Homo sapiens: one gene and its partner. The protein of the gene in region 2 interacts with the protein of the main gene of each other region in a biochemical or structural test. Each region holds a gene or a part of one and is shown on either strand. Other genes may lie near its edges.

What was found.
Region 1: the proteins of FHL5 (region 2) and CREM form a complex in vitro, tested with the Homo sapiens proteins (one study listed by BioGRID).

What each region holds. Positions count from the first base shown.
Region 1 is NC_000010.11:35,189,306-35,193,130, forward strand, and holds part of CREM (cAMP-responsive element modulator), read left to right. Parts: intron 1-3,825.
Region 2 is NC_000006.12:96,614,904-96,619,227, reverse strand, and holds the end of FHL5 (four and a half LIM domains protein 5), read right to left. Parts: intron 3,620-4,324; coding exon 3,456-3,619; 3' UTR 602-3,455; downstream 1-601. UniProt on the Homo sapiens protein: May be involved in the regulation of spermatogenesis. Stimulates CREM transcriptional activity in a phosphorylation-independent manner.

The DNA of each region.
Region 1 (3,825 bases), on a different chromosome or scaffold from region 2:
GGTTACCTGAGATTTCAACTGGATTTGCGTTATACATTATTTTAATTCAGTTGTGCCTATGATAACTGTAATAGATGTATTTAATACAGCTTTCAAAACTCCTGTGTTTTAATTGAATTCTATTCCTCTTGGTCCATTCGCTTAGGATTTAGGATATAGCACTATTTTTTAAAAATTTGCTTGCTTGTTTGTTTGTTTGTTTATTTATTTATTTATTTATTTATTTTTGAGACAGAGTCTCGCTCTGTTGCCCAGGCTGGAGTGCAGTGGCGCGATCTCGGCTCACTGCGACCTCCGCCTCCCAGGTTCAAGCAATTCTTCTGCCTCAGCCTCCCGAGTAGCTGGGACTACAGGTGCATAACGCCATGCCCGGCTAATTTATTGTATTTTAGTAGAGACGGGGTTTCACCGTATTGCCCAGGCTGGTCGTGAACTCCTGAGCTCAGGCAGTCCACCCACCTTGGCCTCCCAAAGTGCTGGGATTACAGGCAGCACTAACGTTAAGGAAAGTAAAATCAGTTATTTTAGTTCGAATGTCTTGCAGGTATGATAAGCATATTATAATTGATGAGTCTCTTGATAATTATACTCAGGTATTTTGGGGGTTAATGTGGACTATGGTAAAAGTGTGTGAAGAACTGAGGTGGTGGCATTTATGGAGTAAAAAATGCATAGTACAAACCCAGTACTTTAATGTTTTCTTGAAATGTAAAATGAAAGCCACCTGTTCTATTCCCCCCATACTCATGGACCATATTTATGTCTAGGTGAATAATCTTAAAGAATAATTATTTCTTCTCATTTTATCTTTGTTACATGGAAGAATCTACTGCAAACAACAGAGTTTTGAGAATTTTTAATGTTTTACACAATATGCACGTAAGTTTGTGCCTTGGGGTTTTTAAGAATTTTCTTCCACAAGTCACAAAGATTTTTTTCCACATTTTCTTCTATTTGCTTTATGGTTTTACCTTTCACATTTATGTCTTTAATGTATCTGGGCTTCACTTCTGTATATAGTATTTGGTGGGAATTCATTTTTAACTTTTTTCTCCGTATATGGAGCCACTCCCAAGGGTTTGTTGTTTCCTCACTGGTGTATGGGGCAGCCTTAATTAGACAGTGGGTTTGCTTTTGCACCTGGATCTGGCCAGTCTTCTGTCTGATTCATCTTTTTCTGAATCCCAGCGCCATACATGTTTGTTATCTCATAAAACAAGTTCCCCTTGTCTTTTTTCTCAGTTTGATACAGAGTTAGTTTTTTGTGCACGATTATTCTTTCATATGCATTTGGAATAAGTTTGAGTTTCTAAATAGTAGTAGTAATAATAATAATAATAAAACCAATGATGAGACTGCATTAATTTTTTTTTTCTTGAGATGGAGTCTCGCTCTGTTGCCCTGCCTGGAGTGCAGTGGCACGATGGCTCACTGCAAGCTCCACCTCCCGGGTTCACGCCATTCTTCTGCCTCAGCCTCCCAAGTAGCTGGGACTACAGGCGCCTGCCACCATGTCCGACTAATTTTTTTGTATTTTTAGTAGATACAGGGTTTCACCATGTTCGCCAGGATGGTCTCGATCTCCTGACCTCATGATCCGCCCACCTCAGCCTCCCGAAGTGCTGGGATTACAGGCATGAGCCACCATGCCCAGCCAAGACTGCATTTAATTTAGGGAGAGCTGAAGTCTTCATAATGTTAAGTTGACCTATCCCAAACCATAGAAAGTCTTGTTTATTCAGATCTCATTTTACTTCTTTTAACAGTTGAACATTTTTCTTTTTATTTATTTATTTATTTATTATACTTTAAGTTTTAGGGAACAGTTGAACATTTTTCTTCACGGAGATCTTGCATATTCTTTCTTTAGTTGGTTCCTAAGTACTTTATGGGTTTTGTTGCCATTACAATGGTACCTTATTTTGTATTGTATTTTCTAATTGTTGCTGGTGTAGAGAAATACGGATTATTTTAAGTCGATCTTTTATCTATTAACTTTGCTGAACTCTAATTACTTCTAATAATTTACTGATTCTTTGTGATTCGGTCTGTGATCCTATGTGAATGTTTATACAAATAGTGATGTTTTGTTTCCTCCCTTCCAATCTTTATTCCTGTTTTCTTTTTCTCTTTTTTTCTTTTCCTTAAATAATCATGGCCAGGAGCTCCAGTTTAAACACAGCAAGGCCAGTGGGCATTCTTGTCTTCCTGAACTTAGTGGCAGTGTTCCCTGCCCTCCTTCTCCCTTCATCTCACTGAAGGGCCCTGTCAGCTTCTTTGTGGATTCTCAGTGCCTGTCTTGGCTGATGCCTCAGCAGTATTTAACACTGTCGACTTCTGCTTCCTCCACTTCCTGAGACTGTGTCCTCCTTGCTCTTCTCTCTCTGCTGCTTCTCTGTCAGTCCTGTTGCTGGGCTAAGCTTCCCCTGCCCCTGTCCTGAGTGTTTCAGTGATCCTCAGGCTCACTCCCCCACCCTCTTCCTGCTGAGCTCCCTCCCTGAAGGACTCCCTCCCACGCTGGCTTCAGTTCACTGTGACTATGTCCTGACTCCAGCTGGTTCCTTAGATGGCCACACATACCTCTGACTCCTAAAATCCACTCTTCCTATCTTCAGTGATTGACCACTACTATCCTTGATGCCAGAAACCTAGGTGTTGTCCAGTATTCTTCCCAGTCTCCATTCAAAGTCACTGTGTAGATTCTTCTGCCTGGCTGAGCCATGAATGCTTCTGCCACTCCACAGCCCTCTGTCCTGGCCCTGGCCCTGGCCTGGGTGCTATCCCTCTGACCCAGGCTACCCCTGTGGGCTACAGTCTCCGGCAGCCACCGGAAGCTGGCTATTGTGGAACAGCTTTCTGATCCTCCTAATCATGCCAGAGGCAGCAGCTCCCTTCTTGGCTCAGTTTTTTGGGAATTGTTCCTGAAAGTTCAGCTAAACTCTTCATTCCTCACAGTGATTCTGGGAGCCACTGATAGTTCTTAAAAACAGCAGTTTCTTGCCCCCAACATCTCCATTACTGCATTGCACTTGTTTTGTTTTGTTTCGTTTTGTTTTGTTTTGAGACAGAGTCTCACTCTCTTGGCCAGGCTGGAACACAGTGATGTGATCTTAGCTCACTGCAACCTCTGTCTCCTGGGCTCAAGCATTTCTCCTGCCTCAGCTTCCCGAGTAGCTGGGATTACAGGCATGTACCACCATGCCCAGCTAATTTTTGTATTTTTAGTAGAGACGGGGTTACACCATGTTGGCCAGGCTGGTCTTGAACTCCTGAGTTTAGGTAATCCGTCCATCTCGGCATCCTAAAGTGCTACGATTATAGGCATGAGCCACCACACCTGGTGTCTGGGGTCTTTTTAATAAGGGCACTAATCCTGTTCACAAGGGTGTCACCCTCATGACCTCATCACCTCTCAGAGGTTCCACCTCCAAATACTATTGCATTGGAGGTGAGGATTTCAACAGAGGAAATTGGGTGGGGATACAAACATTCAGTCTATAGCATCCACTCAAAAGCATCCATCAATGTCTGTGACCTGTTAGACAAAGCTCCAAATCTTTCATGTGGCCCAAATCTTTGCTTGATCCAAGCCTTGCATTCTTTAATAGCTGCCTACCTCTCCACTTCTCCCTCTTTTGTAATACAGCTCTTTCTTTCATTTCCTGGGATAGGCCATGCCCTCTCTCCCTCCAGGGCCTTCTTCACACATACCGATTGCCTGATAAGAATACGTTCCCCGAGGAAGCCTTGCCCATCCTCCACATCTGGCTTAGGCAACCTTCTGTGAGTTCCTACTGTACTTCCTTAGGCACATATCATGTTGTG
Region 2 (4,324 bases):
TCTCCTGACCTCGTGATCCGCCCGCCTTGGCCTCCCAAAGTGCTGGGATTACAGGCGTGAGCCACCGTGCCCGGCTAAACAACCATTTTCTTATTTAAAACACAGACAATTAACAATATGCCAAGTAGATTAAAAGTTATTTTTTTCTTAAATTCAAAAATGGTATTGCTAACATGAAATGTGTTTTTGGATTGACTTTTCATTTGTGATATTAAATTTGGCAGTTTTTTTTAACCATTTGTGATTAGTGTTATGCATTTTTCATAATGGTAGGCCAATATTTTACTCTAATGAACAATCTAGTGTTTCTTTTTTTTAAGTTATAGCAACGATGTAAGCTTTGAAGCCTGGATTGTAACATAACCACATTTTACTTAACCAGTGGAGCTAGTTTGTCCCAATTTAACACTTTTATAATGCCAAGTTAAAATTGAACCCTTGGGCTTCCTAGTCATTATTATTGAAGCAGAAATACATTTTTGCTTCTTTTGTCATCTTTAATCCCCAACATGACAAAATAAAATATTTTGACTTGTTGACTTGCATACTCATCTTTGCCAACAAATGTAACTCGTGGCCTTCAATGCCTTCTTCCTCTTTCTTTTCACTTTTGTAGCCATTAACCAAACTTATTCCTTCAGTAAGAAACTTAATCCTTGGAACCTTGCTTTCTTTGGTTCTATTCCACAAAGGATCAAAAGCATAATTTTCCTCAAACACTACAATAATTATTTTCTTCCTTTACTTATGAACAGTTGGTAACTTTCTATGGCCGGTTATGTCACTTTTTATCCTAAGAGTTAATATTCTCCCTTCCTCTGACTCTTTCTCTTTTAGCAATCTTATTTTCTCCTGCTCTTCGGCAGTCTCTGCTACTTCCAAGCCATCTGGTTGTTATTGGCACATGGGATTTGCTTTTAACTTCTTTCCTGCCCATGCAGATGTCACCTTTGAATTACTGGGAGCCCACTGTTTCCTGAGTCAGTCCATTTCATCTTTGGATAAGTCCATTAAGGAGTTTTTCTCTTTGTTACATAAACCATATAAATCAACTATATAATTTTTACATTTATCTTTGTGTGTGTTACGCAAAGACCTAAGGAGGTCTTTTTCTTAGTTGTTTTGCATATGTGTGCTATGTCTACATATGTGGTGCTTTGTTTAACCTGCAGGCAAGGATCTTTGCATCAGGCACTTCTGCATTTCCATACCATGATCCATCCTCCTACAACTCCAGACCCACAACAGTATAAGCTCTAACTTTTGGCATAGTACATGTTTAATGGATGTTTGATGTGTAGGATACCTTCTAAATGCAGAACTATTTATATGTAAAAGTATATATATTTATACTTATGAAAGGATAATAAAATCTTTAGGAAATGATTCTGTGAATTTTAATTGTAAAGCTAGAATACAAGTCTGATCATGTGCATACTCACTGCCCCCACACAGTAAAATGCCTAAACATTTCCAATTGTTTAACTAAGAAAACATTACATGTTGTATATGTATCTATAATTGGTTAACAGAGAAGATGTTACATGTTATATATCTATCTAAACCTAAGTGGCTTGGTTTTCTCTATGTGTAATGTGCTATTATTTTCTATATCATAGATTTAGTTCTACCTGTGAAATTTCATATAATGCAGAAAAAATATTGATAGTTTTGCCTGTATTTTTCAATGTGAATATGAAAAAATACCTTGGCATTGTTAATCCAAAAATACATTTATAGTTTTCAAATAGTCTATCTAGCAGAACACTTATTAGTATCTCTAAATTATTAACATCGCTGAATATTCTTGCATTTTAAACTATTTCAAAAATTATTTCCATAACAATTTTAATTGAATCTCCTGTGATGCTATTTTGGTAATTGTAATCAGCAGTATCTTACAATTAGATTTTAATCAAAACCTTTAATGCTATAATGTGTAATCTGAGAGAAGACAGTTATATATCTATGTGGGCTTCTTCTCCTGACCTCCCTCTACTCCATCCAAGAGATGCTATAACCAATGTGAAAACAGATCATGGAGAGCAGAGGTTGCTTTCCATTTGTCCCAAGTAATGTGGAAAATATCCAGGGGTAGCAAGATAGGGTCATGATCAGTTAAAGTCTGGTATAAAGATAAACCTGGTGATGGACTTCTCACTAAGGCTCTTTACTTCCTGTGTGATCAATAAACACTGACTGACTTATAGGACAGTTGCTTAGGGTTAGGAGTGCACCTCCTGGTTATGCAGGAGATTGAAACTGGGGGCACAACTGGCTTGGGGTAAGGGGGGTGTGGCACAGGTGTGGGGGAAGAGTGGGGAGGGCTCGCCTACAGCCCACATTACTCTATTGTGCTGCTTTGCAGGTTCTGAATTATCAGCAGTGAATTATTCTTTTTCAGCTTTTATTATTACTAGATTTCTTTAAAGCCCACTTTTATGTCTGCCCATTAATCATTTATGTAATTTTAGAAGGCAATAATGCATGAGGCACAGAGCTAATTATGCATTCTATTATGTCGTTAGATATCTGGATGAAAGTCATGTTCCAAGACTCAATCCCTTCCCTAAAACTCATTTCCACAAGTGAAGATTTAATGATCTATTTATTTTAAAGGTTTGCCTTTGGGGACAAAGATTATCCTGGTTAGCTCCACTTGAAAGAATAGACTTTTATTTCATGGAATCTGTAAGCGTTTAGAAAAATCACTGTGGACTTTGAAAATATATTTAATACAAAACGTGTTGAAACCCATGCTTTGGCTATCCCTAGGTAGAAATGATCCTCTTTATACCTATGCAGATTATGAGAGCCATAATGTCCTCAGTTCTCATATTCCATTGAGTAAACACAGAACTAGCAAGCTGTGGAAGCAGTGTGTATGAGGGCAAATTGTAGCTTTGTTTTTTAATTCTACAGTCAGTATGTGTGAAAAAAAGGATGATTTTTAAATGATAACAATTCTTAAATGTGATAATTGCTAATGAATTTACTCTGATCAGTTTTGTTCTTTTACCATTCATAGCTAATTTATCACATTACATATAACCAGGAATGCAAACACTAGCCTCATGTATACCTCTCAGTTTGATCTCTTAGTTTTTCTTTTACTCTTCAGGTATGAAAAACCTCATTCTTCAGTAATTACATCCACAGCTCCTAGGTATATGTCATATATTTGATTATGAAGAGATATTTTCCTCTGCTTCTAACAGCAGAGTGCAGTATTTTGCAAGGAGAGTTGTCTTTGTGATTTAGCATATATTCATTTCTGTTCTACTGTGCTTTTTGTGTGCTTAGAATATAGTTCGATCAAAATGTGTGCAAAAACTTTTCCACTCTAAACTACATGAATATTTTCTAAAACTTAAGTCAAAAATAAGACCGCAACTGAGTTCTGGCTTTAGTGACAACGAAGGCAAAATGGATTTTAGGTGGGCAAGGACTGTCTCCTAGATGTCAGTGTCCATTCCGGAGCCACATTTTTGGCAGAAGATTTCCTTGTTCTGGGTCAGGAAGCCTTTACCCACCAAGGAGACAGAGCATTTCCCGCAGTTAAAGCATTCGCTATGCCACTGGCTGTCTTGAAAGCAGATAAACTTGGCACCTGTGAGACCTGTAAAGGAATTGGAGAAAAAGATTAATCTATCCTTTCAAGGAACAGATTGAGCATTCTAGCAGATGCTCCTCTAGGAACTGGAGATAGAGCTATGAGCAAAACAACGCAGAGGCAAATAACCCAAAAAAGAATGCTGCTTCCTGGCCCTGTGTCCATCTGGAACTATCCACTGTAGGAAAGTTACACCTATGCCACCCAACCAGATTCACAGCCAAATTCTGCCATAATCAACAGAAGAAGGCAGAATGCTAATATGCAAGTCAGGTATTTTTGGAAACAGATAAGGTTGTCTAAGCCAGATAAGACAATACAGTGTAGCATAGTGGAAAGAAGGTATAGGTTGTGAAGTCAGAGATATCTAAGTATGAATACATTTCCCCTTTTTCTCTATATGACTTTAAGTTTTCTTAGCTGCAAAATGAAGATAAAAGGAAATAAATGTATGCTTCCTAGTTTGATGTCCAATGTTGTAATGAGTTTTAGTTTTCTTCTTTCCCCTCATTTTTCTGTGCTTAGTTGTACTTAGAATATGTCCTGGGGTTATACGGTTTGGGACACTATTTCTAGAAAGCATAACCAAATAGAGGATTTTGTCTAATCATTCAGCCATCCTAACGTGATGGCCTTATTACCTTGCTCAGAGCCAGCTTCAGCTTTTGTTGAATCTGGCCAATGAAGCCACGTTATCACGTGATTGGTTTC